Homo sapiens: one gene and its partners. The protein of the gene in region 1 purifies or fractionates together with the protein of each later gene. This does not show direct contact. Each region holds a gene or a part of one and is shown on either strand. Other genes may lie near its edges. The genes, in order: SLC35F1, SEC62, SPTLC2, GOLGA5, ACSL6, HACD2 and SURF4.

The links.
Region 2: the proteins of SLC35F1 (region 1) and SEC62 purify together in Homo sapiens (affinity purification with mass spectrometry; one large-scale study listed by BioGRID and IntAct). This does not show direct contact.
Region 3: the proteins of SLC35F1 (region 1) and SPTLC2 purify together in Homo sapiens (affinity purification with mass spectrometry; one large-scale study listed by BioGRID and IntAct). This does not show direct contact.
Region 4: the proteins of SLC35F1 (region 1) and GOLGA5 purify together in Homo sapiens (affinity purification with mass spectrometry; one large-scale study listed by BioGRID and IntAct). This does not show direct contact.
Region 5: the proteins of SLC35F1 (region 1) and ACSL6 purify together in Homo sapiens (affinity purification with mass spectrometry; one large-scale study listed by BioGRID and IntAct). This does not show direct contact.
Region 6: the proteins of SLC35F1 (region 1) and HACD2 purify together in Homo sapiens (affinity purification with mass spectrometry; one large-scale study listed by BioGRID and IntAct). This does not show direct contact.
Region 7: the proteins of SLC35F1 (region 1) and SURF4 purify together in Homo sapiens (affinity purification with mass spectrometry; one large-scale study listed by BioGRID and IntAct). This does not show direct contact.

Annotation. Positions count from the first base shown.
Region 1 is NC_000006.12:118,147,640-118,152,063, forward strand, and holds part of SLC35F1 (solute carrier family 35 member F1), read left to right. Parts: intron 1-4,424. UniProt on the Homo sapiens protein: Putative solute transporter.
Region 2 is NC_000003.12:169,993,822-169,998,245, forward strand, and holds part of SEC62 (translocation protein SEC62), read left to right. Parts: 3' UTR 1-4,424. UniProt on the Homo sapiens protein: Mediates post-translational transport of precursor polypeptides across endoplasmic reticulum (ER). Proposed to act as a targeting receptor for small presecretory proteins containing short and apolar signal peptides.
Region 3 is NC_000014.9:77,553,738-77,558,161, forward strand, and holds part of SPTLC2 (serine palmitoyltransferase 2), read right to left. Parts: intron 3,410-4,424; coding exon 3,304-3,409; intron 1,783-3,303; coding exon 1,563-1,782; intron 1-1,562. UniProt on the Homo sapiens protein: Component of the serine palmitoyltransferase multisubunit enzyme (SPT) that catalyzes the initial and rate-limiting step in sphingolipid biosynthesis by condensing L-serine and activated acyl-CoA (most commonly palmitoyl-CoA) to form long-chain bases.
Region 4 is NC_000014.9:92,807,805-92,811,304, reverse strand, and holds part of GOLGA5 (golgin subfamily A member 5), read right to left. Parts: intron 2,006-3,500; coding exon 1,786-2,005; intron 1,052-1,785; coding exon 928-1,051; intron 1-927. UniProt on the Homo sapiens protein: Involved in maintaining Golgi structure. Stimulates the formation of Golgi stacks and ribbons. Involved in intra-Golgi retrograde transport.
Region 5 is NC_000005.10:131,948,900-131,953,009, reverse strand, and holds the end of ACSL6 (long-chain-fatty-acid--CoA ligase 6), read left to right. Parts: 3' UTR 1-3,037; downstream 3,038-4,110. UniProt on the Homo sapiens protein: Catalyzes the conversion of long-chain fatty acids to their active form acyl-CoA for both synthesis of cellular lipids, and degradation via beta-oxidation.
Region 6 is NC_000003.12:123,528,969-123,533,392, forward strand, and holds part of HACD2 (very-long-chain (3R)-3-hydroxyacyl-CoA dehydratase 2), read right to left. Parts: intron 1-4,424. UniProt on the Homo sapiens protein: Catalyzes the third of the very long-chain fatty acids (VLCFA) elongation four-step cycle (condensation, reduction, dehydration, and reduction).
Region 7 is NC_000009.12:133,369,059-133,373,482, reverse strand, and holds part of SURF4 (surfeit locus protein 4), read left to right. Parts: exon of another isoform or gene 1-2,561; coding exon of another isoform or gene 2,562-2,607; intron 2,608-4,424. UniProt on the Homo sapiens protein: Endoplasmic reticulum cargo receptor that mediates the export of lipoproteins by recruiting cargos into COPII vesicles to facilitate their secretion.

The DNA of each region.
Region 1 (4,424 bases):
CTCCCTGTTTGGTGCCTTTTCAGTTTTCTATGTTACTTCTGTAAACATAAAACATACAGCATCCATGAGCATCTGTGACCGCTCCTCTCACACCAGTCTCAAAAATCTCCTACACTTAGTGCCAGTAAAACATTATGTTTAAAGCACTTCCTTGCGTCTTACTTGGTTTCTCTTATCTAATTAGAAAAACAAAATGGATACCATGGAGCCAAAGAACAGATTCAAGTCCATGAATGCAGAATGTGAGGCAAAGATACCCAATTAATGATAAATTTCTGGAGGTGTATATTTTCTTCTTGCCTAATAATCTTCTTACATATAAGTCTAATTAATGCTTGAATGTGATAAAAACCTTTCAGCAAAGAGCTTATAGAAGTCAATGGCCTAACTTCTGCAAACAAGAATCTTGTCAAAGAACATGGTAGAACACGCTTCTCCCACTTTCAAGGGGTATTGATTTTAGTCCAGGCAGTATACTTAGGTGTTCATTATGTATGCATGTTTGAATTCATATGCTGACTCAGATCTGACATGACTTTCCTGAGAATAGTTATCAGAATGAAGATGTCGCCACAGAAAAGTTGATGTGCTGTAATTCAAGATGATAACATAATTGTTTCACTTTTGTGGCAAAGAATTACAAGCAATATGATTATGTAACACTATGTTGAAATTCTTCATACCTTTTAAAAGAATGTATTCTTATAACTAAGAGAAGAAAACAAGATTAAGTTTATGCTTTATTTTAAATCTTACTATTTTGAATATCTAATTTGTAACACAAGTTTACTCTCAAAATTCTAAAGTCTGTTTCTTTAATAGAACGAAGTGCCGGTGGTAATGGTTATGTCAGTCTTTATGAATACAAGCTCTATTATAACAGGTATTTAGCTTCCAGCAGCACTATTTTTCTTGAGACTCATGCATTTTTCATTGTCTAGTCATTCTGAGTTTAAAGTGGATAGGATGTCCTTTTAAATGCATAAACAAAGAAGATGAAAATGTGTATCATAGTCTCCTCTCCATTTCTGCCACTAAAATTATAGGAACTATGTTTCTTATGTTAGAATGCATCTGGTGTGTTATTCCATATACTACATGAATAACCTACAGCTCGCTGTACAAAATTCCAACCGGCACCATATTTAGCATCATTTTTGCAAGATAGCACCTTACCAGGCTTGTTCTGAAAAGCACCAGAAAATAGCTTATTAATCTCAATGTCTAACTGGCAGATGGAATACAGTAAAAAACAACATGATTTTTGTCTTTCAGAGCTAGTAGTTTTTCAAGGTAAGATAAGCAACCATCTTCCAAATCTAAGACTTTGCCATTTTCATTTACAGATATTTGTTTACTCATAAATTTGTTCACTCTTTCATCCTGTGTTTATTGAGCATCTGTTTTCTTTCTGTCCAGCAGTCCTCAAGGCACTAGAAACAGAAAAGAATAAAATACATTCCCTTCTTTTCAGGAGCTTATGAGCTACACAATATGGTGAGTGCCAATAGTGATAGGGAAATGCAGGTGAGGACACTTGCCTCACCCTTGGGAGCAGGGAGTGGCTAAACAGAGGGTCTCTGAAGAAGACATTGTCATAAGGCCATGAGGAGTTAGGTGAAAGGACCACAGATCTACCATAGCAGTTATCTAAGGAAAAAATATTTAGAAGGGATAGTGCAACAGTAAATGAACTAAAGAGATCCTAAGGCAGAGAGAGCAGGGAGAACATTTTTGTACAACACATCGCCAAATGGATTTGTCCTGTGCTAATAGAGAACGAAAGAGAATTTGATCAGGGCAAGATGGCAGGGCAGGGGGTATAGTTAGCAGAGTGTCAACATTTAGGCATTTAGGTTTATTTCTATTTTTATTTACTGATTTATTTGGTGACTCCAGGAACTAGCTCAGATGTGCAGGCTGCAATAGCTACAATATCTAGCTCCCTGCAGTAGGAAAAAGACTCATGAACTAATCTGATAAAAGGTTCCTTTCATTCCTTCCGGTTTTACATGTCGTGCTCATTAGCATGACGAATAAAACCATAATTTGTATTCTCCATCAAATCACACCAGCAGCAGCTGAATGACATGGCCATTAATTAAAAGCAGAAATTGAATACAGCAGACTTGATGTTTTGTTTGACTGAAGAAACAAGAATAGATTTGTATTGACCTCTTGTTGAAAGGCACACATTACAGATATCTTGATGGAAGAGTTTTCATCAGAGGGTCAGTCCCAAACTTGTTTTTGTCTTTAACTCCTCTAGAGTATTTCTGGAAACCAACCACTTAGGTTTCTAGCTGTAAGTTCTTGCACTCAATCAGGACACACAGTATATTTTTGCCACCAAAATAGTAGTATAGCATAATAATTAAAAAGTTGAGATTTGGAACCACATAACCTAGTTTGCATCCAAACTCTTCCCCTTGTTAGCTCTGTGACCTTGGGCTGCTTGCGTAACTTCTCTAAGCATCAGTTAACTTATCTATAAAATCGAACAGTAATAATAGCTGCCTTATAAGGTTTTTATGAGGATTAACTAAGATAGTATGTGTAAGTCTAAGCTCATGGCTTGGCACATAGTAAGAACTTACTAAATATGAATTATTATTGTTGTTTTAGCTTAATCGGCTCCATTTTGTACTAAGTTATTTGAGGACCTAGCTCCCAAATCTTAGTTTTGTAGCTCCCCAGTGACAAGGACTGTGTCTTGTTCATCTTTGCATGCATAGTGTGTGACATATAGAATGCTATTTTATACTATATTGGCGCATATACATAAGAAAGACTAAAATTGTATTCTCTTATATAACTAATCTGTCATTTATTTGTGGTGTGATTTTGTTCAGGAAAGGCATAGCATATTGCCAAAGTTTTTGAACACTATAGTTGTAATTTATAGAACTGCAGGAATCCATGTCATAGCAATAATTTTCACCCTTCTTGTCCCAAAGAGATGCACTCCATACACAGCATTCTCCAGGAGACATACTCAGCATCAAGAACAACTCTTATATATTAGTTGTAACTCTATTCATATTTCTTCCATTTAGGAATGTAAGTTATTATGCAAATAATCAAGAATGACCCAGTGATAGGATAAGCTAAATTAATTTTTAAATCATTTTAAACATTATTATTTTAACTATCATTGATATTATGTTACATGGTGACTATATCAAATTCCTTCCATGAATTTTTTGAATTCTTCAAAATTCTGCAAAGTCAACATCTCTAATTTCTCACCATTTCCTTTTCACTTAGTCACTACTAGCTATCCCCTCCATGAAACTCTCTGTTCTCTTGGTTTTCATGACACCAATACGGCTGTTATTCTCCACTCAACCAAAACTCTTAAAGGATGGCAGTGACTACAAATTATGTCTTGTCAGTCCTCATTCTCTCTACCCTCTAAGCAACATTCAGTATTACAACTATTCAATCCATGAATGTCTCTTTCCTTTTGGTTTCCTTAACACCAAAAAACTCTCTTGCTCTTCCTCTTAGCCTTCTAACCACTTCCGACTCCAGTGATGTGCTTCTTCTCCCTCACCCACCTCCAACCTTGGGATTCTGCAGATATTTCCCAAGGCTCTCTTACTTTCTCTCCTACTCTCCCTTTCTTAGGGATATTATCCATTTCCAGTATTTTCACCATCACTTTTATGAGTATAACCTCTGCATATTTATCTCCTGGTTGACCTCCCTATCCCACTCTGATCCCATGCTACTAATGCTGCTGGATCATTTGGAAGTTCATCTGGCAACTCAAGTTCAATATACCTAAAATATGTATTGTTTCTCCACTAAAACCAGCTCCTTATCATTATTTTTGTCAGTAGATATTATACTTATCTTAGGCAGTCTTAAAAACCTTTAATTTTTTATAAGAGGTGGGGTCTTGCTCTGTAGCCCAGGCTTGAGTACAATGGTGGAATCATGGCTCACTTGCAGCCTTGACCTCCCAAGCCCAAGCAATCCTCCTGCCTCAGTCTCCCAAGGAGCTGGGACTACAGACATGCACCACCACACCTGGGTAATTTTTTTAATTTTTTGTAGAAATGAAGACTCACTATGTTGTCCAGGCTGGTCTTGAACTCCTGGATTCAAGTGATCTTCCTGCCTTAGCCTCCCAGAGTGTTGGGATTACAGGTGTGAGCCACTGCGCCTGGCCTTTAAAATCGTTTGAGTTAATTCTGGTACTCCTTTTTACCTCTACCTTTCTTTCTTTCTTTTTTTTATTAATCACCCCCTTTATTTCAATAAACTGTTTCTTGTTGCCTACGCCTCCTCTGCACTGTCTTTGAATCCCTCTATTTTCTACTTCCTCTGAATGGTACTGCCTGGCTGTAGACACAGTGAAGAACATGGTACAGGCATCACAGTCCAGCTGAGGCGAGAGGTATAAAGGCATTAGTTTC
Region 2 (4,424 bases), on another chromosome or scaffold:
TTAATTGTTACTTATTATTTAGATATTTCTCAACACTTAAATTCATAAAATTAAGACCATGTAAGGGTATGTTTTTAGAGAAATGGAAGTTTGAGTAACCCACAGAACATCTGTGATCTTTCTACAGCAGCTTCAGTTTTGTGCCAACATTCCATGTATTTTGAATATGAGCAAAAACTGATCTTAAGAGCAGACTTAAAGTAGCTTTGTACGCCTTAATGTTCATTTTGATTTATTTTAAATCTTTACATTCAGAAATGAGATACTGTATTATCAGACCAGGAGGCATTGCTGTGAAAGATAATTTCCTATTCTAAAATATCAAATTTAAAATAAAGATAATGAAAGAAAACATAAGAGAACTATTGGACTCTAATTGCTTTGAACTAGTTTTGCAGTTTGACTTTACGTCTTATACATCTTAGTTACAAGTCTTTGGAAACTCTTGTTTACTTATGAGCATAATCATTCCTTGGAGTTATACTAACTAATAATGAATATTAAATGATTTTTCTTCAGTCACAGTGAGAGCATCTTGCTTTGTGGTTGAAATAGGTAGTGTATGTCAGTCTTTGCTTTAGGCTGTTTCTCATCTAAGTGTTTGAATTAAAGATGTTAAATTTTTCTAATTGTGAAAAATATGTTTTCTGTATCGACACATTTTATTAAACTTGGCTTGATTGCTTCTTTATAGTAGTCCCTGTAAGTGGACATAAATGTGGCTATTTGATGTTAATGCAACTATGTCAAGGCTGCAATCACTTTAATAGTTTCTTTTTAGCAAATAAATGTTCATTGATGAAGTGCCTGGGTATTTTCCCGTCCCATTTGCAGAGCTCTACTACTTCATTTCCACAGTAAGCATATATATAATGATCACTTCTGAGTTTATCACCAGTAACATTGATACCTATTTTGGGGTATAAACATGGTGTTTTTCAGAAATAAAAATTATTTCATTAACCTTTACTATTACTGTGATAATACCCAGGCACTCAATATTCATCCTGAAATTTTTTATAATATATGTAATTTGTCTAGTCTTAAAGACATTTGGAGCATGGCCAACAGGAAGGTCAGCTTCTTACTGATGTGTGTGGATTCTTACAGAATGTTAGTACAAATTTTTATAAATATTTGGTGATCCCTGGGGGGAAATATCATTCTTACTATGGTTAGAAAGTGAATTAGAAATTTCAGCTCAGTTTCTATTTTACTATTCAAGTTGTGTACTTTAAACAAATATAAAAATCAAAAGGCTGCCTCTATTACAATCCTCAGTGGAATAGATGGCTATCTTTCTTGGCTAACATTAAATATTCTTGTACCAGAGCATGGAAAATCGTTTATAATTGTTAATAGAATGGCGATTTTTTTTTAAGAACTTCAGATTTGCTATGCTGCTGTAAGTAGAAAGCATGAAGCTTTTTGATCATGTAGGGCTTATTGTAGAGGGTATCAATTGGCCTAACTAAGCAGGATTGAATTTACCAGAGGCTAAGTTCAGATAGTAAGAATAATGCATATGTGATTGTTCTTAAAGTCAATGTATTAAATAAGGTATTTTTCCTTTTCCCTCTTACTGGATTTTTCAATTTTCAAACCATATGGCCTAGGTAACTTTAATTGAAATAATATAGATTTAGTTGAATACTATTCAGGAAGTAATAAATTTTAATATATCACATTGAAATTATGCAGTGGTGATGAATTTTGGTGTTTCCCCCCTCTTTCTGGTTTTACATCATGAGGATCAGTTAGCTGCTGACAAGAAAAGTCATCTTGTGTCTTTTGTAAATTGAATTTTTTTTTTAAATCTATTAGGAACTGGAAAACAGCAAGTATGGTTGATTCTCATTATTCAAGGTAGTTACGTTCTATAAAGTCACTGCGAACACTGAATTAGCAAATATAGAACCTAGGGGAAATACAAGGCTAGATTTCTGCAAGCCACTGGTCACATTTTCATCAAGCAGTCAACATGTAAATTTCTGTTGTAAAGACACCTTATTTAATATAATCGATTCATTAACATTGAAGTCATGACCAACAACACTGTAACTCATGCCTGAATGAAGCTTATCTGACACATAAGCTTCATAAGGCACACAACAGCCTTTTTACCCTTAGGAACAGCTTTTTGCCCTTAGCACTATGCTTGGGGGCCATTTTAAACAGTGAAATCAAAAAAAGAACAGAAATGCAAAAACCATGGCATTAGCGTAAAAAGGACACGTTTATAGTATGAAAGCTGGAACATGGCCTTGTTCAACCTCAGCTCAGAATATGTGTACAGCAAGTTTTTTGCTGTACCACAAAATTTTAGGTTAGGCAAATTCACAAATACGGAATCCATGAATAACGAGGATCAACTGTACTTAACTATATTTTAAAGCTGTGACATTTATCTACCTGGTTTATGGAATAGAATTTATTGCTGAATCATGCTCCAGTATTTGAGTGATGTTTTAAATATCCTATGTCTGAAAATAATTCCTCCTAATTGTGTGGTAATTTGCTTTTACTGTTTCCACAGTATTTCAGGTCTTTGCTCATTCACTCAGTAATACTGAGCACTTACCATGTACCAGAATTTTACTAGGCACAACCATGAATAAAAATACAATTCTCTTGCACCATTAAATAGTGTGTTAAGTGCTACGGCAGCAAATTGCTACATGTGCTGGATATCTCTTGTTTTCCCCTCCAGCTCCACTCTGCTCTTGCCCACAAAGCTGACCCGAATGGACCACAGCAGTGGGCTCCTATGCCTCCTGGCTTCTGAGTGGGTTTGGCCAAGGAGTGTCCTGGCCAGAGATCAGAGGATGGTAGGGTGCCTATTCTCGGCTCTTCTCCTGGGGTTGGGGGGCTGCCTTAGCAGCCAAAGGTCACTTCTCCCAAACTCCTTCCCTGCTTTCCAGGTTGCCAGTCCCTGCACTCTTCCTTTCTGGCCAAGGATGATGTCAGTTCTGCTGCTACTAGCCTGGAGTTGCAGAAGCTACTGTGCTTCCTCTTTGGGTAGCCTATACCTATACTTATCTCCTCATAATATCTTCATGTAAAGAACCATCTGTTTCTTATTGGAATCAAGACCAATACCAAGGAGAAATTCCTAGGGAACAAAAATTCCAATGAGGAATTGACCTCTTTGTCAGATCCTTATCACCAAACATTAGAAAAGATCTCATAACTTTATACAGCATGTTGTAAGCATTTTGATAACTAAAATCCTGTTCTAGTGAATGTCATGCAGATAACTACACAAGGAGATTAATTTAAATTTGCCTTCTTTGGCAAGCCCTTAAACCAATGGCTAAAGCAGTTAGTTGTGAGTTTCTGAGTAGGTCCCAATGCGTTTATTTCATTTGTCCAACCTAGCACAGAGATCCTTTGATACTTTAATTGCATGGCTTTTCCAATCAGACGAAATTTCAGTCTGAGAGAGGACATATTTTCTGAGGTTTATAGTTTTAGGATTGTCCAAAAGGCCTATGATCTCTTCTTAGCATGACAGAAAGAGGGAAAGATAAGTTAAATTTCAAGGGGGTCATATCATCACACTTTGGTCTTATTTCATTTTCAATGATTTCCTAGATCACTTTAACTTTTTTGTGTCATGGACTCCTCAGAATAATGGGTTTTTTTTGTTTGTTTGTTTGTTTGAGATGGAGTCTCACTCTGTCACCCAGGCTGGAGTGCAGTGGCGAAATCTCAGCTCACTGCAACCTCCGCCTCCTGAGGTTCAAGTGATCCTCCTGCCTCAGCCTCCCAAGTAGCTGGGATTACAGGCACATGCCACCACACCCAGCTAATTTTTGTATTTTTTAGTAGAGACAGGGTTTCACCGTGTTGGCGAGACTGATCTTGAACTCCTGACATCAGGTGATCCACCTGCCTCGGCCTCCCAAAGTGCTGGGATTACAGGCATGAGCCACCATGCCTGGCCAGAATAATGTTTTTAAATGCAGAAAAGGAAATGCATGGGGTTACAAGGGAAACGAATTACACTGAAGTGTAAGCTACCAAATAATTTATGATGTGGTAGTTATAGGTGTGCATTTAATAGCCAGATCTACGAGTGGATGTAATAACTGCTATGATGTTGAAGTAGCATAAAACATATATTAGATATCTGCAACAACTGTGATGTAACATGAAAATACCTGATTTCTGTTGACAAAGTTACTGCTAGTACAACTGTGGATTGTTGTCTGCACTCGTCATTGAAGGAAATACTAAATTTTAGTTTTAGGCTAGTGAAATTAAAGTTAATTTTTCCCATCCAAGTTCATGTATCTTCTGAATTCTATCCGTGAATCCCTTAGAGGTCTGTGAATTGTAGGTTAAGAACCCCTGCCCTAGCTAATCAGATCCACCAATGTTTCAAATAGGACTATAACTTATTCAAAGGCCAATGATACTTC
Region 3 (4,424 bases), on another chromosome or scaffold:
AAAAAAAAAAAAATCTATCAAAGCTGATTAAAAGTCACTGAAAATGAGTTCTCTCTAACAGGCAATCAAGTATTAAAAGAATGACCTTTTTTTCTGTGATAGGGTCTTGCTCTGTTGCCCAGGCTGCAATGCAGTGGTGTAATCACGGCTCACTGCATCCTTGATCTCCCAGGCTCAAGCAATCCTCTCATCTCAGCCTCCCCCATAGTTGGGACTACAGGCATGTGCCACCACCACACCCAGCTAATTTTTTTACTTTTTTGTAGAGATGAAGTCTCACTATGTTGCCCAGCTGGTATTGAACTCCTGGGCTCAAGTAATCCTCCCACTTCAGCCTCTCAAAGTGCTGGGATTACAGGTGTGAGCTACTGTGCCCAGCATAACCATTCTTTAATACTCCGAATATTGAGTGGTGAAGCAAAATTAAGAACATTTATGAGCACCTCCTCTGTGCCATATACAAATACCTGACATACATTATTTTTTCCCTAACATTGCAATCAACGTTTAAAAATAACAGCTTCATTGTGATATAAGCCACATACACAGAATTCACCGTTTTAAAGCACAATTCAGTGGTTTTTAGTATATCCAGAGTTGTGCCACTTTTACCACTAATTTTAGAACATTTCCATAACCCTGAAAGGAAACCTCATACCCATTAGCATTCACTTTCCATTTCCCTATCCCCTCCGCCTCCGGCAACTACTAATCTACTTTCTGTTTCTATGCTTATTCTAGGTATCACATATTTTAAAACATGCAATATGTGACTTTTTGTGACTTTTTTCACTTACCATAATGTTTTTAAGGTGCACCCACGTTGTAGCATGGACATATATTACTTTTTAAACCCTTACTACAATCTTACAAGCTGGGCATATTTATCTCCATTTTACTGACAAGGAAACTGGGAGGTTAAATGTTTTCCCTGAGGTCTAACAAAGTAAGCCGAGAAATATTCAGACCCAGGCCTCTGTCTTTATGGTTCACCATTTCGACCACACCACAGATTCTTACCTGCATCAAAATTCACCGTATGATTTTTTTCTGACTACAAAGACCCAGAAAAGGCAACTTCATAGTTTAAAAATTGAAAAATACAATGCTTTGTAGTACCCCACAGCTGGCACAACTTTTTTGCTTCCTGTCTCCATGTTCACTCATGATATATTTGTGTCCAAGGGCAAGGTGACCTGCTATTCCCATGGGCTCCCATGACAACCCCACTGTTTTTGAAACTGTGAGCACAATGCAAACCCAACAGAAGGCTGGGGCGGGCAGGGAGCACCACTGTGTGTTCTTTCACACAAGAGGGTATTCTATATCTCAGATCAGCATGTAGCTTAGAAAGAAGCTCAAATAAGAAAACAACAAACAATGAACAGAACCAGCCTTTAGTTCAGTGAGGAGACATTAGAGTCACTCACTGGTATTATGAGCCTAAACCAGAGGCAAATTTGCGGACATCCCAGTTCAGGGCCCCATCTGCTAGGCCTGAGGTACCAAATCTAATTGCCAGTGACTTTATCTCTAATCGCTCATTCTCATGGCTCGTTTACCTTCTTGCCTCCAATATATCCTCCAGAAGCACCAAAACTCTTTGTGAACGTTCCCATCATAACATCCACATCCTCGGGATCCAGGCCAAAGTACTCCACCACACCCCGGCCTGTGGGGCCCAGGGCGCCAATGCTGTGAGCCTCATCCAGATACAAGTATGCCTTGTATTTCTTCTTGAGGGCAATCACTTCAGGAAGACGAACAATAGATCCCTCCATGCTGGCAAAACATGAAAAAATATATATATACACATATACACTGAGACTTTTTAAATCAAAATTGGGAGTTTGGCACTTCATTATTATTGAGTTTACTGCTTCTTTTTTTTTTCTTGGGACAGAGTTTTGCTCCATTGTCCAGGCTGAAGTGCAGTGGCATAATCTCGGCTTACTACAATCCCTGACTCCTGGGTTCAAGCGATTCTTGTGCCTCAGCCTCCCAAGTAGCTGGGACTAGAGGTGCCCGCCACCACCACGCCCAGATAATGTTTGTATTTTTAGTAGAGATAGGGTTTCCTCATGTTTCCCAGGCTAGTCTCGAACTCCTGGCCTCAAGTGATACACCCGCCTTGGCCTCCCACAGTTCTGGGGTTACAGGAATAAGCCACCCTGCCCGGCTGAGTTTATTGGGTTTTAAATGGTCTGACAACTGTATCTGTGGCTTAAACTGACAAAGGTAGATGAAGCCATGGCAAGGCAAAAGACTAGGGGAAAGAAAACTGGACTTTTAAAACAAGCACTGGCTGGGCGCGGTGGCTCACACCTGTAATCCCAGCACTTTGGTGGGCTGAGGTAGGCGGATCACTTGAGGTCAGGAGTTCGAGACCAGCCCGGCCAACACAGTGAAACCCCGTCTCTACTAAAAATACAAAAATTAGCTGGGCTTGGTGGCACACACCTGTAATCCCAGCTACTCGGGAGGCTAAGGCAGGAGAACCGGGAAGCGGAGGTTGCAGTGAGCCGACATCCCGCCACTGCACTCCAGCCTGGGTGACACAGCGAGATTCCATCTTAAAAAAAAAGCCACCCAAACCACCAAAAAACAAAAAACAAGCACCAAACACAAGCAATCTTAATTCACGACAAAAATAATTAAGGTCACAGCAGATTCTTCTAAAGCTTGTAATTACAGGCAACATGAGACTTTGCATCACGTTGCACAGGCAATTAAAATGACACAAAAGAACAAAAAAAATTAGGTGGTAAAAATACGTGTAAAAGCTGTAAAGGTTAACCAAAATAAAATATTTCTTTTTAATTTTTATTTATTTTTTACAGAGACAGGGTCTCACTATGTTGCCCAAGCTGGTCTCAAATTCCTGGCCTCGAGCGACCTCCCACTTTTGCCTCCCAAAGTGTTGGGATTACAGGCGTGAGCCACTGCACTCAGCCTAAAATAAAATATTTATTAAAATTAAATGGTGTGTAATTTGTTTTGACATATTAAAATATATATTCCAATTCTTGCCCCTACATATAGGTTCCCTCTACAAACTAGAAAAATAAAAGACTCAAATAGAAAGGGGATTTGGTGACCATGTAGTATTATGGAAAGAATAACGAAGAACTAGACAAAAAGACTTCTGTTCTAATGCTGACTCTGTTTCCAGGTATTTTAGCGACTTATAAACACTGTCTCCTTAGTTTCCAGAGGGGGATAGACTAATGTTCCCTTCAGTTAAAAAATTCTATGACTTCATGGGGCCAAGTCACAAAGGTAAGAATAATAAAGCAGGATTACCTATATATTCCTTCCACAAGGATGAGAATTTTCTTCCAGGGCCTTCGTGTCCGAGGCTGACCATAAACAATGGCATCTTTCAATAGCTTCTCTAGGCTTTGCATATCTACAGAGCACAAAAAAGAACAGTTATACCGCATCTTCCTCTTTCCTAACTTTATTCCGGAAATGCAGAGATATATTTCTCATTCAGAAACCATGCCTCAGATAGCAAAGGACATAATTAGAGTTGGGCAGAAAAAAGCAGGGCAAAATAGGTGAATTATTGCCACCTTGAATTGAAATCCAAAATGTAACAAATGTTCAAAACCATCGAAACTTGACTAAAGGACGGTGGTGGCTAACTCAGTTCATTAGCTTCCTTATAAAATGACCAGTGTCTCATGTTAAATACCCTGCCATTAAGTTAGCTTCTGTGTGTTTATCGAAAAATACAGAATCAAACTGTATCTCTAATCCCAGTGAGTCATTCGGAAATAAATGCGTAAAAAAGACAGAGCGAGAGAGTGTGAATAAACCATCACAGACACATACTCCTCCTAAAAAAACAAACGCAAGGCGTAAAAAAACTTCACAGTGCGTGCTCCATTTCCTTTCACCCAGGACGTACTCAATAAACGCTTGTTAAAGAGTTTTATTTTGGTACTGGGTTAAAAATACACCCGTCTGGGGCATGTATAAGTCTGTGTGTTAAGCAAGCCTGACAATCAGTTGAAATTGTTCCATGTTTGACTTCATCAGTTGTCCATAAACAACCAAGTTCTTGTGGCTCTGTTGGTTCTTATGGTGGTTAATGGGCCTGGAAACAACTTGGCTGCTACTGCCATTAATGATGATCATAATTTCCTTGTTAAAGACAAATGCTTTGAAGACCATTGTTGCCACACTACAGATTTCATACTTAAAATACCTGCCCTGAAATGAAGTCCTTAAAAAAAACTCCCCCAAATTTAAGCAACATTAAGTCTGGGGAATACTTAATAGGGGTGGGAGACATCCTATCATAAAATCTTTTTTTTTTTTTTGAGATGGAGTCTCCCTCTGTCATCCAAGCTGGAGTGCAATGGTGTGATCTCTCCTCACTGAGGCCTCCACCTCCAAGGTTCAAGCAATTCTCCTGC
Region 4 (3,500 bases), on another chromosome or scaffold:
AAGCTTACTAAACTGGAATTTTCAAGATGGGTCTGGGAATCTGTTTTTTAAGAAATTTCCCAGGTGAACCTGGTCACTTGGATACTAGGTCTGGTCTGATACTAGCTGATCAACTGTTTCCAATTTAATAAGTAAATAAATAGGTGTAAATTACACCATATTTTAAAGAACCAGTATTCAAAAAATAATGTAAAATATCTCATTAATAACTTTTAATATTGACTACATATTGAAATAATTAATACTTTGGATATATTGTGTTAAAATTAAGAGACACACACTACCTGATATTTACTTTCAGGACTGAATTACTTTCACCTGTTGAAAAGCTAGCCCAGACCAGTGGTTTGCAACCCTGACTGCTCATTAGATACACCTGTGAACCTTCTAAAACCAAAGTGTCAATACCTAGTCCCTACCTCATACAATGGAATGTGACTGCATATGGAGCTCAGACAGCACAAGGTATCACACAAGTGATTCCCACGTGTAGACAGGGCTGGGACTGAACTAAATGCAAATATTCATCTAAGAGTAAAACTCTTTACATATTACATACAATTTTCTCCTGAAATAAATGAGCCAGATTAATCTGGAATCAGAAAAACTTAAATTAATAAAAAACAAATACGATCCCCCAACCATTAGCATTTAATCAAATAATGACAATGATTGTTGCAAAAATTAAGTAAAAGATGTATATCTCTAATGCACATTAACTATTTTAATTGTCTCTCAACACATAAAATTAAATACATTTAGCAAGGATCAAGCTAAATTTTCAAATATCTGATTTTTGTCACAGAAACAGAATTTTCTGAAATGCATTGCAGAATTATATTAGACAGTTAATGTGCTATGAAACAGCATAAAGTCATTTTTTCCGTGTCCAAGTAACAATAGGAATCTGCTGTCTCTCATTCTAACCTGCATCTGTTTATAGCTCTCCTGCTCTCTCTTCAGAGTGGCATCCGCTTCATGCAGTCTCTCCTGAAAAGTCTGCAGAGCTTGATTCTGCAGGCTGTTACCTTCACTTTGATCCTGCATTATTCTAAAGGAAAATGCATCATGTGAAATAACTCATGTCTACAGTGTACAAGTGATAAGGCAGAATAATTTTTAGAGCGTCAGCTTTAGTCAAGCACAAAAAAGATAATTTGACTGAAATATTCTTAGATAAATCTTTCCTTTCTAATGGAACATAATCTACATTTTTAGGCATCCAAATATTAAGTACATACCGTATAATGAAAGATTAATGACACAACAAATGCTTTTAAATTCAGAATTTGCTAACAATGCATCTCAAGGTTCAAACAATGAATCCATTTTATGTTGTTGTTGTTGAGATGGAGTTTCGCTCTTTTTGCCCAGGCTGGAGTGCAATGGCACAATCTCAGCTCACTGCAACCTCCACCTCCTGGGTTCAAGTGATTCTGCTGCCTCGCCTCCTGAGTAGCTGGGATTACAGGCATGTGCCACCACCCCCGGCTAATTTTTTTTCTGTATTTTTAGTAGAGACGGGGTTTCTCCATGTTGGTCAGGCTGGTCTCGAACTCCCAACCTCAGGTGATCCACCTGCCTCGGCTTCCCAAAGTGCTAGGATTACAGGCTTGAGCCACCACGCCCAGCCAATGAATCCATTTTAATCATACACATTTCTAACACTACCAAAAGAAATATTCCCTCTTGTAAATTTCCAAGAAAGCTAAGTTTCATAAGTGGATACACTACAATGTTTACCATTACTTGCTCATTTTTTTCATTATTCATAGAATCACCTACCGTGATTTTTCACTCTGTAAGGCTTCTAATGCTTCTGTGCGAGTACTCAGTAGCTGGTCAGCTTCCTGGAGTCTCACTTTCAGTACAGCCAGCTGGGAATCCTTTGCAGCCACAGCTTCAGTCAGGTCATCTACTTGGGCTCGGAGTCCTCGAGTCATTCGATCACTCTTTGAATGGTCAGCATTCCACTTTTCAACTCTTGCTCTTGCTTTGTTTAATTCTATTAAAAAATTTAAATTTCTCTATACAAGCAAAACCAAACACATTTTTCTCAGAGCACGTACAGTTTCTACTTTGAGTGCCTTTAGTACTTTCCTTATTGACAAAATTGGGAACTTACACGTCTTCAATTTTCTTTGCCCCAAAGGGTCATCCACTTTTCAAGGGCAATATTCACAGCTAGATTATAGTTAATTGATTAGAAAGGGGCGTGAAGCTAGCTGCTCTTCTACAATGCTGTTTCTATATGATAAAGCATCTGGGAGCCGAAACTAGTATTAATAGATAGCAGAGTATATTTTGTAAAGTTCTGCTAGTGACAGGGAAAGGAATGCAAATCCAAATCAAAGGTACATCCTAGTAAGAACAAAACAAAACCTAAACACAGAAAAGAATCTATTGCTTTCAATTACTGTTGCAAAAAGATGTTATTCTTTTGACCTAGGAAATCAATGCAAAAAGAGCAAAGTAGTGCTCTATTTCAGAATACAATGGCATTTCCATACCCTCACATACCATATGTAATTGCAGTTAGCCACCACAACATTTTAAAAATACTGAATCAAACTTTATAGGGTCTCAAAGCTTTTTTTTTTTTTCCAGTGAGACACACCTTTCTTAAAGAAAAAAAAAAAAACCCAAAAACATGAGACAGAGCCTCACTCTGTTGCCCCGGCTGGAGTGCAGTGGCATGATCATGGCCCATGACTCACTGCAACCTCCAACTCCTGGGCTCAAGCAATCCTCCCACCTCAGTCTCCAAAGTAGCTCAGCCTACAGGTGTACACCACCATATTCAGCTAATTTAAAACAAAAAAAAATTGATTTTTGTAGCCCAGGGGTCTCACTCTGTTGCCCATGCTGTTATTGAACTCCTGGCTTCAGCAATTTTCCCATCTCAGCCTTCCAAAGCGCTGGGATTACAGGCGTGACTCACTGTGCCTGGCCAAACAGCTCTATTTCTATGTCTAAATTAGTGTGGGTAAAGTAAAGCTTTTTCTAAAGTCAGCCTGACTAGTGAGTACTTTGTTTTTGTTGTTGTTGTTGTTGTTGTTGAGACGAGTCTCGCTCTGTAGCTCAGGCTGGAATGCAGTGGCACGATCTCGGCTCACTGCAACCTCCACCTCCTGGGTCCTGGGTCTGGGTTCAGGCAATTCTCCTCCCTCAGCCTCCTGAGTAGCTGGAATAACAGGCACGCGCCACCATGCCCAGCTAATTTTTTTGTATTTTTAGTAGAGACGGGTTTCACCATGTTGGCCAGACTGGTCTTGAACTCCTGACCTTGTGATCCGCCCGCCTCGGCCTCCCAAAGTGTTGGGATTACAGGCGTGAGCCACCACGCCTAGCTTAGTGAGTCTTCAACTATCTTCCCTTTCCTCTCTTCTAGGCTCTATCCATGGCTTGGCAAAACTTTTCCCACCATCCCCTCACTCCTTTCTAATTAGCCCCAGGAACCAAGGCAGCAATTTTGTCACTCGTTTTCTTCTCAGCCACAC
Region 5 (4,110 bases), on another chromosome or scaffold:
GCCCATGCTATGCCTGGAAACCCTATATGGTTGTAATTCTGAACAATTTCACTTTTTTTCCAGTAAGAATATCAAGGCAGAAGGTGGGAAGGAGGGGACATTATTTCCAGGGAAAATAGTTTTTCAACAATATAACTTTGATAAACCTCTTTAAAATGCCCCAAGAAAACTTTTTAAGTCCATAGACAAAGAAATACTGCCTAATGGCATAATTACATTCCTAAAATCTTTAAGCGTGCCGAAGTTTAACCACTAAAACCTCCTTTCTTGCATTATGTATTTAGATGCACCCTGTATTGGGGTGTCAACAATTTCTTATAATTAAAGGCCAGATACCATGGACAGCAATTAAGTTCCAAGCTATAGATTGTGCCTCTGAAAAAGGCATGGACCCCAGGAACGTGTTTTTCTTCTGTAGAGACAAGACTCTAAAAGCATATCAACAATCCATATGCAATTCATGTGTTAATTTAAAATGTATGTGCTCAGTGTTTGTAGTCTAGAAGCTCCTTTCCCTTGGAGGAATGCCAAGCAGTTTGCAAAAATAAATGCTGTTAGTTAAAAACCACATAATCACATGGGCCTACTGAATAAATATGCATCAGTGATTATATACTTATATTTCAGTCTTGTCAAAAGTGAATCACTGTTTCATTTGATGTATTTACCCAGTCTTTTTATCCAGTTTTTCTTGGGCATATTCTCTCTGAAGACCCACTGTTGCACTTCTAAATTTGACAGTTAAGAAATGAGCTAGTTCTATACACACTGATTTTTAAAGGCGTTTCTGAATAAACTAATACTTAAAATGTCCAAAGTCACATCTGTACAGCATTAGATTTTTATATTTAATATATATTTGACTAATTAAAAGTGAAAGTTGTTACCTGAACTGGATATTCATACTATTTTAAGGGCAAGTTGCTTACATTTCAATAACAACAAAAAAAGAATCTGTTTCCCATTGTCCTCCTACTCAACTAAAATTCATAGTTGGCTTTAAGCCCAAAAGAATTTTGAACAATGTGACAGAAACAAGTAATGTAAAACTTATTTTGTTTTATTTATACTTTATAATAGTTAGATATAACAGATTATGGACAACTTAATATTTCTTCTTTTTGGCTGGGCGCGGTGGCTCATGCCTGTAATCCCAGCACTTTGGGAGGCCGAGGCGGGCAGATCACGAAGTCAGGAGATCGAGACCATCCTGGCTAACACAGTGAAACCCCGTCTCTACTAAAAAAATACAAAAAATTAGCCGGGCGTTGTGGCGGGCGCCTGTAGTCCCAGCTACTCGGGAGGCTGAGGCAGGAGAATGGCATGAACCTGGGAGGCGGAGCTTGCAGTGAGCCGAGATCCCGCCACTGTACTCCAGCCTGGGCAACAGAACGAGACTCCGTCTCAAAAAGAAAGAAAAAAAAAAAACAAAAACAAGGTTTCTTCTTTTTGCCACTTAAAATATCTTATATTTCTAGATTTCCAGGTCTATGTGGAAATCATCACACTTGGGCCAATAAATGGGTTAGTTCAGATGTGCTGAGAAAAGTAAATAGTGTACCCTAAATATCTTGCATGTACATTTATCTATTTCTCTGTTTAATGCCACTTAATTTTGTAAGAAATGAGAAATGAAACCCTATGTATCAGTGGAAAAATCCTTCTTGCTTCAGATTTCCCAACTTTATTCTGGAGGAGAAAAAAATCTGTATTTCTCATTAACAGAGATAGAAAAAGGTGATGTACTTACGATGGTCACATTCATATTGGGCATTGGATCTATTTAAGCCTAGAAGTATAACAGATAATCAGTTCCTTAAGTGTAAATATGTTCTTAAATGTTTGGCCTTTTTATCTGTTATTCAAATGTATTAGTAATTCTCATATTTTGCAAACAGATCCTTTTGTGTATATTATAAAATATATACCAAATCTGTTTTTCCTTTTGCTGTGGAAGATGTCTTTATATAATATTGAGACTTCCCTTGCAAATGAGAGACGGGACTCTGGTCAGGTATAGTGTGTAGGCCTAGCCCCATGTATTAGGAACTCATAAACTCAGAAATCCAAGGATTAAACATTTTATGTCTCCTTCATTTATGCAAGTCATGCTTTCATTCTACATGTAGTTAAAACTACAAGTATGAGAAAAAATAGAACTTTCCATTGGAATTTTTTCCAATCAGGTAATGTTTTAGCAACTTGAAATCAGCACTTAATTTGATTGTATTACCTATCAAAGAACCAATAACCTTTCCTTTTTCTGCAGTAAAGAAAATGAAATATCCTTTATTTTCCAAATGTATGAAGCACAAATGCAATATAGTTATTTAAAATATAAAATACTTTAAAATGAATGTGAAGAATGGGAAAATATATTTTTGCATGAAAACAGACTACTTACAAATGTGCTTAATATCTCAGGAAAAAAAGAATGAATAACCGTATATAAAATTGGTAAACTATAAATTGGCTGTATTTCCTTGCCGGTTTTAATTTTAAGGAAGCATTTACATGAAAAGAAAAAAGGATCCTAGTAGTCTGAATTTCCTCTCAAGTATGCTAGAAAATACTTTCTATGAATTTACAATTAACTGCAATAAGAAGTGGGTTAGCATTCAAGTAAGGTCAATACCCCAAATGAGAAACTCTTCAGTTAGAACACATTAGTGGTTGTAACACAGAGGCAGTAGATAAATATTTGAAATGTGAGCATTTCTAAACTTGGTACCAAATGGAAAGGGTTTCATGAGGTGACAGTGGCTTTTAAACATTCATTTGACCGATTATTCTAATTTTCCTTGTTAAATCATTGCAACAGTTGCATGGGGGAGAATGGATATTTTTTGAAGAATTGCTTATTCCACTTTCAATTTTTAAAAATCGAGGGGATTAAAATATTACTTTTTAAATATGCATAAAAGTATCTTAACTGTAATTACATTTTCAGTTGCTTTGTTATAGTAGCATGCATATTAAATATAAAATGCATTTATGAAAATTTTTGTAAAAAATAAAAGATTTTTCATTTCTCAAAGTTGCTTATAATTACTATTTTATATATTTGCATAATATAATACCCTCATGTGAGTATATTTGGTAATTATCAATCACAGTTACTGCTTATGATAAACATAGTACCAAGCTGCATTACCAATCAGTATACTTTACATCCGTACTCTACGTCCTCTGTTAAAGTTCCACAAACTCCAAGAAATTATGGTCCATCCAGAGAAGAGCTCCTTTGCTCAAGCCTCTGTTGGAATTTTTGCTATTGTCAGATATCTCCTGGATTTAAATCATTTTTATGAATACATAACAAATAACTGTCTTCAAATTTTCCATGATGGTGGCCTTTAAAATATAATTTCCATGTCTTTTACTCATATTCAGAATAATGGATACAATTTCTTAAAATAATGAATTCTGCTGTGTCCAAGATAGACAGATTCTGCCTTCTCCATATGTTTGCTATCATCCATTCCTCCCTATTGTTACAGCTATTAGTGTAGTTTGTGCCACCCTTATCTCTTGTCTGGAATATTACAGTGCTTTCTTAACTAGCCTTCATGTTTCCATTCCAGCATCCTCAAATTTCGCCATCCACATTTCAGCCAGGGCAATCTTTCTAAATTGAAAATCTAGATTGAAAATGCCACTTTCCTGCTTAATAGTCCTTCAGTGACTTCCCATAGTTTCCAGGATAAACTTCAAACTCGCTGGTTCAGCACACAGGGACTAGCATCTCTTCTACTCCCTCCTCTATGGAGCCTCGGCTCCAATCATATTCATTACTTTTGTAGTTCCCTAAAAGCATCATACTTTCTTGTGCCTACCTGCCTTTACACATATAGTCCCTTTCTCCTAGAATGCCCTTTCCTCTAATTCCCCTAACTCCAACCATTCATCTTTTAAAACTCAGATTCCAGCATCCTTTTCTCTGAGAAGCTTCCCACGTGGTTGATTGGTTGATGGTCCTTTTGCCCCACCCCCACGTAGACTGAGTTGCTTGAAGTTTTATGCCCAGTGCGGCTCTGGCTGATAGCAGATGCTAAAGAAATGTTAAGGAAAATCCCCTTGGTCCTTTTTCTTGTGTTGCATAGCATTAAG
Region 6 (4,424 bases), on another chromosome or scaffold:
CAACAAGCATAACAACATAAAAGACTATCTTTAAAACCTTTTTTTTTTTTTATCACCTTGTTCATTACAAGCCCTGGCACAATTATCCTCCCAATGTCCTCAAGTTATAACACTGGAATCATCTTTGATTATTTTCTTTATTTATTTTTTGAGACCGAGTCTCACTCTGTCACCCAGGCTGGAGTGTAGTGGTGCAATCTCAGCTCACTGCAACCTCCACCTCCCAGGTTCAAGTGATTCTTGTGCCTCAGCCTCCCAAGTAGCTGGGACTACAGGCATGTGCCACCATCGCTGGCTAAGTTTTTGTACTTTTGGTAGAGATAGGGCTTCACCATATTGGCCAGGCTGGTCTTGAACTCCTGACCTCAGCTGATCCGCCTGCCTCGGCTTCCCAAAGTGCTGGGATTACAGGTGTGAGCCACCACACCTGGCAGTTAGTTATATCTTAACAAAGCTGTTACTAAAAAAATAAATGGCCAGAAACAGTGGCTCACGCCTGTAATCCCAACACTCTGGGAGGCTGAAGCAGGAGAATTGCTTGAGTCCAGGAGTTCTAGACCATCCTGCACAACATAGCGAGACCTTGTCTCTACTAAAAATAAAAAACATATTAGCTCGCCATGGTAGCGTACGCCTCTAGTACCAGTTCTAGGGAGGCTGAGGCAAGAGGATTGCTTGAGTTTGGGAGGTTGAGGCTGCAGTGAGCTGTGATCATGCCACTGCACTCCAGCCTGGGTGACAGAGTGAGGTCCTGTCTCAGAATAAATGAGTAAAAGTAAATAAATACATAAATAAATGTATAAATGAATTATAAAACCTGGTTATATAATTGTGTAATACAGCTAACAGAGCTAATTAGTAAGTCAAACATTTAGTGAATATATTTAGCCAGATCACACTTAGATGGGACAATATGCAGTTGTGGATTTCCTCTAGAAACCAATTTAAAAAAAAAAATATATTGAAGATGGAAAGCTCATATACTGCAAAACAAGGCTTATGTTTTAAGCCATTCTTGTAAAATAATGTTTAATATTTAGGAAAATGGCAGAATTGTACTCTTCCATATTTCTATTATAATAGACCTATTTTGAAAATCATATTTTGCTTATTAACATGTTAAGTTTCATTTTGCTGGGAGAGGGGGATTAATGAGGTTGAAGCAATAACTACCTAGGCACCTGTAAGGAAAGCACCCATATAGAGGAAGCCTTTGATTTCTTTGATTTCAAACAAACAAACAAACAAAAAGTAAAAAGAAAAGAACTGAGAATTAAAGGATTTCTTTTTTTAAAAAAAAGAGACCAGATTTCACTCTGTCACCCAGGCTGGAGTACATGACGCCATCATATCTCTCACTGCAGCCTCAAACTCCTGGGCTCAGGCCATCCTCTCGCCTCAGCGTCCCAAGTAGCTGGGACCACACGGTGTGCCAGGTAATTTTTTTTTTTTTTTTTTTGAGACGGAGTCTTGCTCTGTCGCCAGGCTAGAGTGCTGTGGGGCGATCTCAGCTCACTGCAACCTCCAACTCCCTGGTTCAAGGGGTTCTCCTGCCTCCGCCTCCCGAGTAGCTGGAGTTACAGGCATAAGCCACCATGCCCGGCTAATTTTTATATTTTTAGTAGAGATGGGGTTTCATTATGTTGGCCAGGATGGTCTCGATCTCCTGACCTTGTGATCCGCCTGCCTTGGCCTCCCAAAGTGCTGGGATTACAGGCGTGAGCCACTGCGCCCGGCCTGCCCAGGTAATTTTTTAAAGTTTTTGTAGAGACAACGTCTTGCTATGTTGCCCAGGCTGGTTTCGAACTCCTAAGCTCACACAATTCTCCTGCCTTGGCCTCCCAAAATGCTGAGATTACAGGCGTGAGCCCCCATGCCCAGCTAAAGTAACTTTTTGTTGTTGTTGTTGTTGTTTTTAGATGGAGTTTCACTCCTGTCGCCCAGGCTGGAGTGCAATGGCGCAATTTCGGCTCACTGCAACCCCTGCCTCCTGGGTTCAAGTGATTCTCCTACCTTAGCCTCCCGAGTGGCTGGGATTATAGGCACGCGCTACCATGCCCAGTTCATTTTTGTGGTTTTAGTAGAGACGGGGTTTCACCATGTTGGTCAGGATGGTCTCGATCTCTTAACCTCGTGATCTGCCCGCCTCAGCCTCCCAAAGTGCTGGGATTACAGGCGCTAAGAGTAACTTTAAACAAATGGAACTAGAAGGTCTAGGGGCAAAAACTGCAATTCAGCTGAACACAGGTTTATTAATTATTCCCTCTCCACTATAAATCACCCTTCTCTAGGGAATATAAATTTGTATTTGTCTCCCTTTCAAAAATGCCATACATAAATTAACAGTGTTTTTCTTTTCTTTTCTTTTTTTGAGACAGTCTTGTTCTATCGCCCAGGCTGGAATGCAGTGGCACAATCTTGGCTCACTGCAACCTCCGCCTCCCAGGTTCAAGTGATTCTTGTGCCTCAGCCTCCTGAGTATCTGGGATTACAGGTATGCACCACCATGCCTGGCTAATTTTTGTATTTTTGTTAGAGGCGGAGTTTCAGGTCATCTGAAACTGACCTCAGGTCATCCACCCGCTGCCTCGGTCTCCCAAAGTGCTGAGATTACAGGTGTGAGTGAGCCACCACACCTGGTCAACAGTGTTTTTCTTAAAAATGCTTTAGTATCCACACACACACACAACGATTTATTTAGTGTATTTCTCACCAGTCTTTTCCTCTAAGCATATTTTAAACCAGTTTAACTTCTACTGTTTATATTGTTTTTGCTTTTCTCATTTAACATTTTAAGAATTTTCCTTCTCTTCTTCAAAAGATTTTAGCTTAAATCATGATATTCCTTTGAGTTAATATGTTTGTTTATTCTCCTTCTGTGGGACATTTAAATTGCCTCGAATTTCTTGATACTATAAATGAAGTAATGAAGCATTACAAATAACACTCAAAATTCGAGGCTTAGACCTTTTTTTAAAAAAAGGATTATTTCCTTGGGACATTTTCCCAGAAGTAGAAGTACTAGGTCAAATGGCATGAATGTTTTTAAGGCTCTTGAAATGTATTGCCAAACTGCTTTCTAAGAAGTTTATTACCAATTTATACTCCCACCAGCAATATACAAAAGTGCCTGTCTTAGCACACCTTTGGCAGTAAATTTAAATCTTAATAAGTAGTGAACAAAAAGCTGATCAATACTTTCTAATTGAAGTAGATGTCAAGATGTTTCTGGCCTTGCCTGCAGGTGCTTCTACCGTTCTCTATCCAGTGAACTCGCCTACTTAGACACCTTAATTTTCCCCAAATCATGTCATTCAGACCAACTGTCACTTAGTTTCTCTGTAGCATAGACAACTACTTCAACCAGTCACCCAGCAAACAGCAGTTCAGGCCCTCACCTGACAGCACAATCTCGAAATGCCTGCTCTACTGGACCAGTCAAAAGGCCAAGAGCTCTATCCCTGAATTTAAGCTAAAGAACAGATGGCCACATAGATGGGCATTATCTCAGCTCTGAACAGAGCTGGCATCACCAAGTTGGGCTTATCATTATTATCAGGTGAATTTCATAAGAAACTAAGGCCAGGCACAGTGGCTTACGCCTGTAATCCCAGCACTTTGGGAGGCTGAGGTGGGCAGATCACCTGAGGTCCGGAGTTTGAGACCAACCTGGCCCCTGGCCAACATGGTGAAACCCCGTCTCTACTAAATACAAAAATTAGCCGGGCGTGGTGGCAGTCGCCTGTAATCCCAGCTACTCGGGAGGCTGAGGCAGGAGATCTCTTGAACCCGGGAGCAGAGTTTGCAGTGAGCCGAAAACGTGCCACTGTACTCCAGCCAGGGTGACAGAGTGAGACTCCGTCTCAAAAAAAAAAAAAAAAAAAAAAAAAAGACTGTCAAACAGTATTAATATTACCTTATTTGCCGTAGGAATGGTGTACAGTATAATGTCCACCCTATCACTCAAAGCCTCTCATACAGGTAGGAAATTTGTTTTAGAGCTCAATGTTAAGAAAGGTTTGCTCCTTTCCAATAATAAGAATTATATAACTCTGTCACCCTCTTTAACTTGGTAGCCAGAAACCTTCACGCTAGATCTGAAGCATACTATAGTGTGATATTTTGTGTATGAGCTACCACAAATCGTTGTAGAATGTGGAATATAGATAGACAAGACAGACTAGATTCTCTCTTTGATTGGACAGGGTCTCACTCTGTTGCTCAGACTAGAGTACAGTGGCACAATCATGGCTCACTGCAGCCTCAACCTCCTGGGTTCAAGCCATTCTTCTGCCTCAGATTCCCAAGTAGCTGGGACAACAGGCATGTGCCACCACGCCCAGCTAATTTTTGTATTTTTAGCAGAGACAGGGTTTCGCCATGATGCCCAGGCTGGTCTCGAACTCCTAAGCTCAAGTGATCTG
Region 7 (4,424 bases), on another chromosome or scaffold:
GACAGGCCCACGCCACCACGCCCCGCTAATTTTTGTGTTTTTAGTAGAGACAGCATTTTGCCATGTTGTCATGTTGTCCAGGCTGGTCTCAAACACCTGACCTTAGGTGATCCGCCTTGGCCTCCTAAAGTTCTGGGATTACATGCCTGAGCCACCGCGCCCAGCCTTCATCATGTATTCTGTTATGTTTTAAATGAAAGAAGCAGTAGCTTGGAACTGGAAAGGCTCTTGAGGGGGCACAGAGTCGACCTCTCCCAGGTTACTGAGGGGAGGCCAAACCTGCTCAGGCTCCTAGACTTGCCTGTGACCAAGACCAAGAAAAGCCGGGTCTTGGTCCCCAGCGCCCCCAGCCCCTGGTGTTGCTCTTCTGGCACAAGTCAAGGGAAGAGCACTAGCGGGTGAAGGGGCTGCTCACATACAAAACCCAAGTGGGTTAGGACCATATCTGTAAGGCACCATATCTGTAAGGCAGCGCAGGCTGCCGCCGTCAGATGATCTCCTTAAGAGTCCGTCTAGGTGGTGGCAGAGCATGGCTGTGGGAGCTTCCATGCCCTTTTGTGGGCAGCTTGGGAGGGCAGCTACTTGTACTCGCCCAAACCCCAATCAGACAGATGCAGGCAAGTAAACAGGGTTCGAAGTCAAAATATGGCTTCTTGTGGACAGAATCTGACCAAGCCCAGGTGGGGCTTTGTTTCTCTTTATTCACATAGTACTTAAAGCTGCCAGACCAGGCTTTTACATGAAAATGACCTAATTTGAAGCCGATAGAGGATTACCATGGAAGTCACTGATCAGATAAAGTGACACATCCATTTTTTCACATCTTCAGAAAACAAGAGCAAAACTGAAGTGACAAGATTTGACCAGAAAGTGTGGGCTGCTGAAAGCAAGACCTAAGTAAGCTTAGTTTCCCAGGCCCAGTGTCTTCCAGTATTATGACAATGACATTAAGTCTTTCACTGGGCCGGGTCCATGATAGACATTCCTTTTGTGAACTTCTTGACTGTAGGAGGTTGGCCAGAGCGTCACCATCTTCAGATGGGCAGAGGGAGGTTGGCTGGCCGCACTGGCTTGTGGTGGCCTGGAGACTGAGTCCGCATCCTGTTACCCCAAAGGCTGGGTTCCTCACTGCTTGGTTGACTGATCTTTCCTTCTGGCCTGCAGAGGCTGGTCCACGGGGACGAGCAGTCTGGTTAGTTTCTGCTGGCAGGCTCCCCACAGTTGCATCTCTTGTCTCTCTGCCTCTGGCATCAAGCTGCTTGCTCTGGCAGCCAGGGACAGTGTCCTCTTGCTCCCAGGAGCCATGCTCTGTAGAAACTGCTGAGACGTGCTCTATGCAGGAGCTTGGCATTTGGAAGCCATGGGAAGGGTCCAGAAACTAATGAACTCAGCAATCCAAACTAATGTCCATGCCTGCAGCTGCTCCTCATTGCCTATTAGACACTCTGTAAAATGTAGCTTCTAAGCAGTTTATACCCATAAACAGCAATATTAGCACTTAATGGGTTCTGCCTGGTGGCTCATCACCAAGGTGACAGAAAAGCTGCATGGGGCCTTCCTCTCCAGTGTGACCTTTGGTGTTTTTAACCTGTCCTCAAGAGTGGCAGAGCTAGTCCTGGGCCCTAGGAGCTGGCCTCGGCCCTAGTTGAAGTGCTGGGGAAGCAAGGATAGGCCTGAGGACCCCTGAACTTGCAGGTGGCACAGGCACTGTGAGGGTCCCGATGAACACCATGCTGGTGACTGGTGTGGCAAAGTCCTGGTGACAGTGGCAGGCTCTGTCATACCCTGCCCTATATCATGAAGGAGTGGGGAGAGAAGGCAAAGAGGAGCTGACTCACTTTTCTTTGTGTGATGATCTTAACGGGAGGTTAAAACTCACTCTTCAGGGGAGTGCGGGCGAGGAGCAGAGGAGGTTGTGGTTAGCGGGGCTCCTCCCAGAACATGGGGCCCAGTCGTTCTCAGTTACGTCTTTCCTATAGTTGGGATTTTGATCACACAGTTTTTTAGTAAAGCCAGGCCATCATCTCCCACATTGGGCTGGCGACATCCTTTCTGGCCCTGCAGGGTGCAGTGTGAACCTATAGAGCAGCATGGGAGCGGGGCTCGGGGAAGTTCTGGAGCTGCAGTGAGCCAGTGAGCTCGAGCCAGCTCTGACAGGCTGATGTGAGGGAAGCCGCTGGGCCGCAGGTGCTTGTTTCTAGGATGTGTGGGACCTGAGTTGGGCTTTGAACAAGGCAGCCCCAGTCCTTGGTGATCAAGGAAATCTGACCTGCCTTTTTCGTCGATGTTCACATTCACCACGAATTTGCAAGCTGCTTTCCTCAATTTCTTTCTGTCCTGAGTGTGAAGAGAAAGTGGAGTTTTCTGTGTGGCGTGGGAGCTGCAGGTGGCTGTGACAGTGATCACTGGATGCCCAGGAAGTCATCTCAGGGTGGATATAATTAATTACGTTTCTAAAATCCCCTTCAGTCGTCTAAAATAACCACCCCTTTGAGAGAAATATCAGTCTTCCTGTTAAGCCCCTCAGATGCTGTCACTGCTTATGAACCATATCCTGCTTGATGGCGCGGTTCTCGGAGAGACTTAATGAGAAGCTTGGCCACAGAGGTGAGCTAACTGTCATCTTCTTCCTGCAGCCTGCCAGGTCAACAGCCACCTCTGGCTCTGCTGTCGCAGTTCTCTAATGGGGGGGAGGGGGACTGTCACAAGTTTTATGTGCTCGCCGTGTTTACACAGGTCACCTGTGTGCTGGCTACCAGCAATGGCCTTAGTGCCTGCAGTGCGGCTGCTCTTGTCTGTCCTGGGGTGCTGTGTGTCCTGCCTGTGTTGAGGGCTCTTCTCTGCTGTGCTGAGGGGACACTGGCTCTGGGACGTGTTCTAGAGTGGCATGACATGGTTCCAGTGGCCAAGTTGAAGTAGTTGTGACCAACATGCATGTAGGAAATAAGGTTAATGTTGGGCCTTGTCTTTAAACGTGGCTTTTTCAGTGTTCAGTCCAAACAGATGCTCATTAAATGGTGGCCAGTTTAGAGGAGACTGCATCAGCCTGACTTCAGCCTTCAGTGTGGACCAGGCTTGCCTTTGAAAACCAGGACAGCCAAGCAGTAGGTGTGCTCAGTTCAGAAGGCAGTACCTAGATTTTTGCATATTTTTCCCCAAAGCCAAGAGCTGTGTCTGTTTCGTCACCATGTTTGCGCAGGGAAGGAGGTGTGAATTGCCTGTCCCACCTTCTCTCTCTTTTTTGCTCTTTAATCCTCTTGACCCAGACACTCAAATTAAGAGTCGCAGACTCATTCAAAGAGACTTTTAAACACTGCCTCAATCTCGTGGGCTGTGCACGTAGATGAGCATGTTAAATGCAGGTCCTGCAACTGGGGGAGGCTTAGACCGCAGCCCATGGCTGGGCTGGTTTGCTCATCTCAGGCCAGTGAGTGGCTCACAGCTCTCATTTTAGAAGCAAGTCAGAACACCTCTGGTGTCTGTCTTGGGTATGGATTGCAGTCTACCTCTCTGCTGCTGTTGGGGTCCACGCCCCACACCCACACCCTGCCCTGGGAGTCCCACCACGGCTCCGTCTCATCTCAGAGGTCTGGACAGCCTCCTGTTGAGCTCTTCCTTCCCAGTGGTTGCTTTTCCCCAGGTTCAGATGAGATAAAGGCTTGTGTCCTTGCTGGGGCTTCCCAGCTGGGCCACGATGTGAGGCCATTCCTTGAGAGCAGTGGCACATCGTGTGCCACGGTGGTGTGCTTTCTCTCTTCCATGGAATATGGGTGATTACACTGTTGCTGGGCATTTAGAGAGCAACGGGGCCATGAGGCAGAACCTGGGGAGGGTGTGTGGCGTCACCTTTCCCACCACCCAGTGTGATGCAGGTTGCGTCACACTGTGCACATGGGCATCTTGTGCTGGTTCTCTGCATTGGCCCTAAAATTCACAGGGGAGTATTTGGGGCCTTTTTAAAAATAAAAAGTGAAACAAGGTCTTCCTCCTAGTAAAGTTGGAAAGCATCTTACCAACCATTAGTTCAGGTGGCCTCACTCTACTGCAGGATAGTAGAGACACTCTCAAAAAAGTAACTGGGCGTGTCCAGGTCACACGGTGTGCTGGCTGGATGGTACCAGGGCAGGATGAGATCACAGGGCCTCAGAACCTCCACCTGCACTTCATCTCCCAAACCCACTTGGTGATTCTCTGGGTATCTGTCGGTCACTGTGATTTCTCCCATCACTTCCGTGGAGTCAAAGGCTGAGTAAATGTGTGCAGAACTGACACTGCAGGGCGCAGTGGGTTTGGGGAGAATGGCCACCTGGCTTTGTAATCTCTGCCTCCGTTCTCTGCCACATGGGAGCCAATCTGCAGTGCTGACCTAGTCAGGGCCCCACCTGACAGGCTGGAGGGTGACCTGAACACCCAGGGGCGTGGTA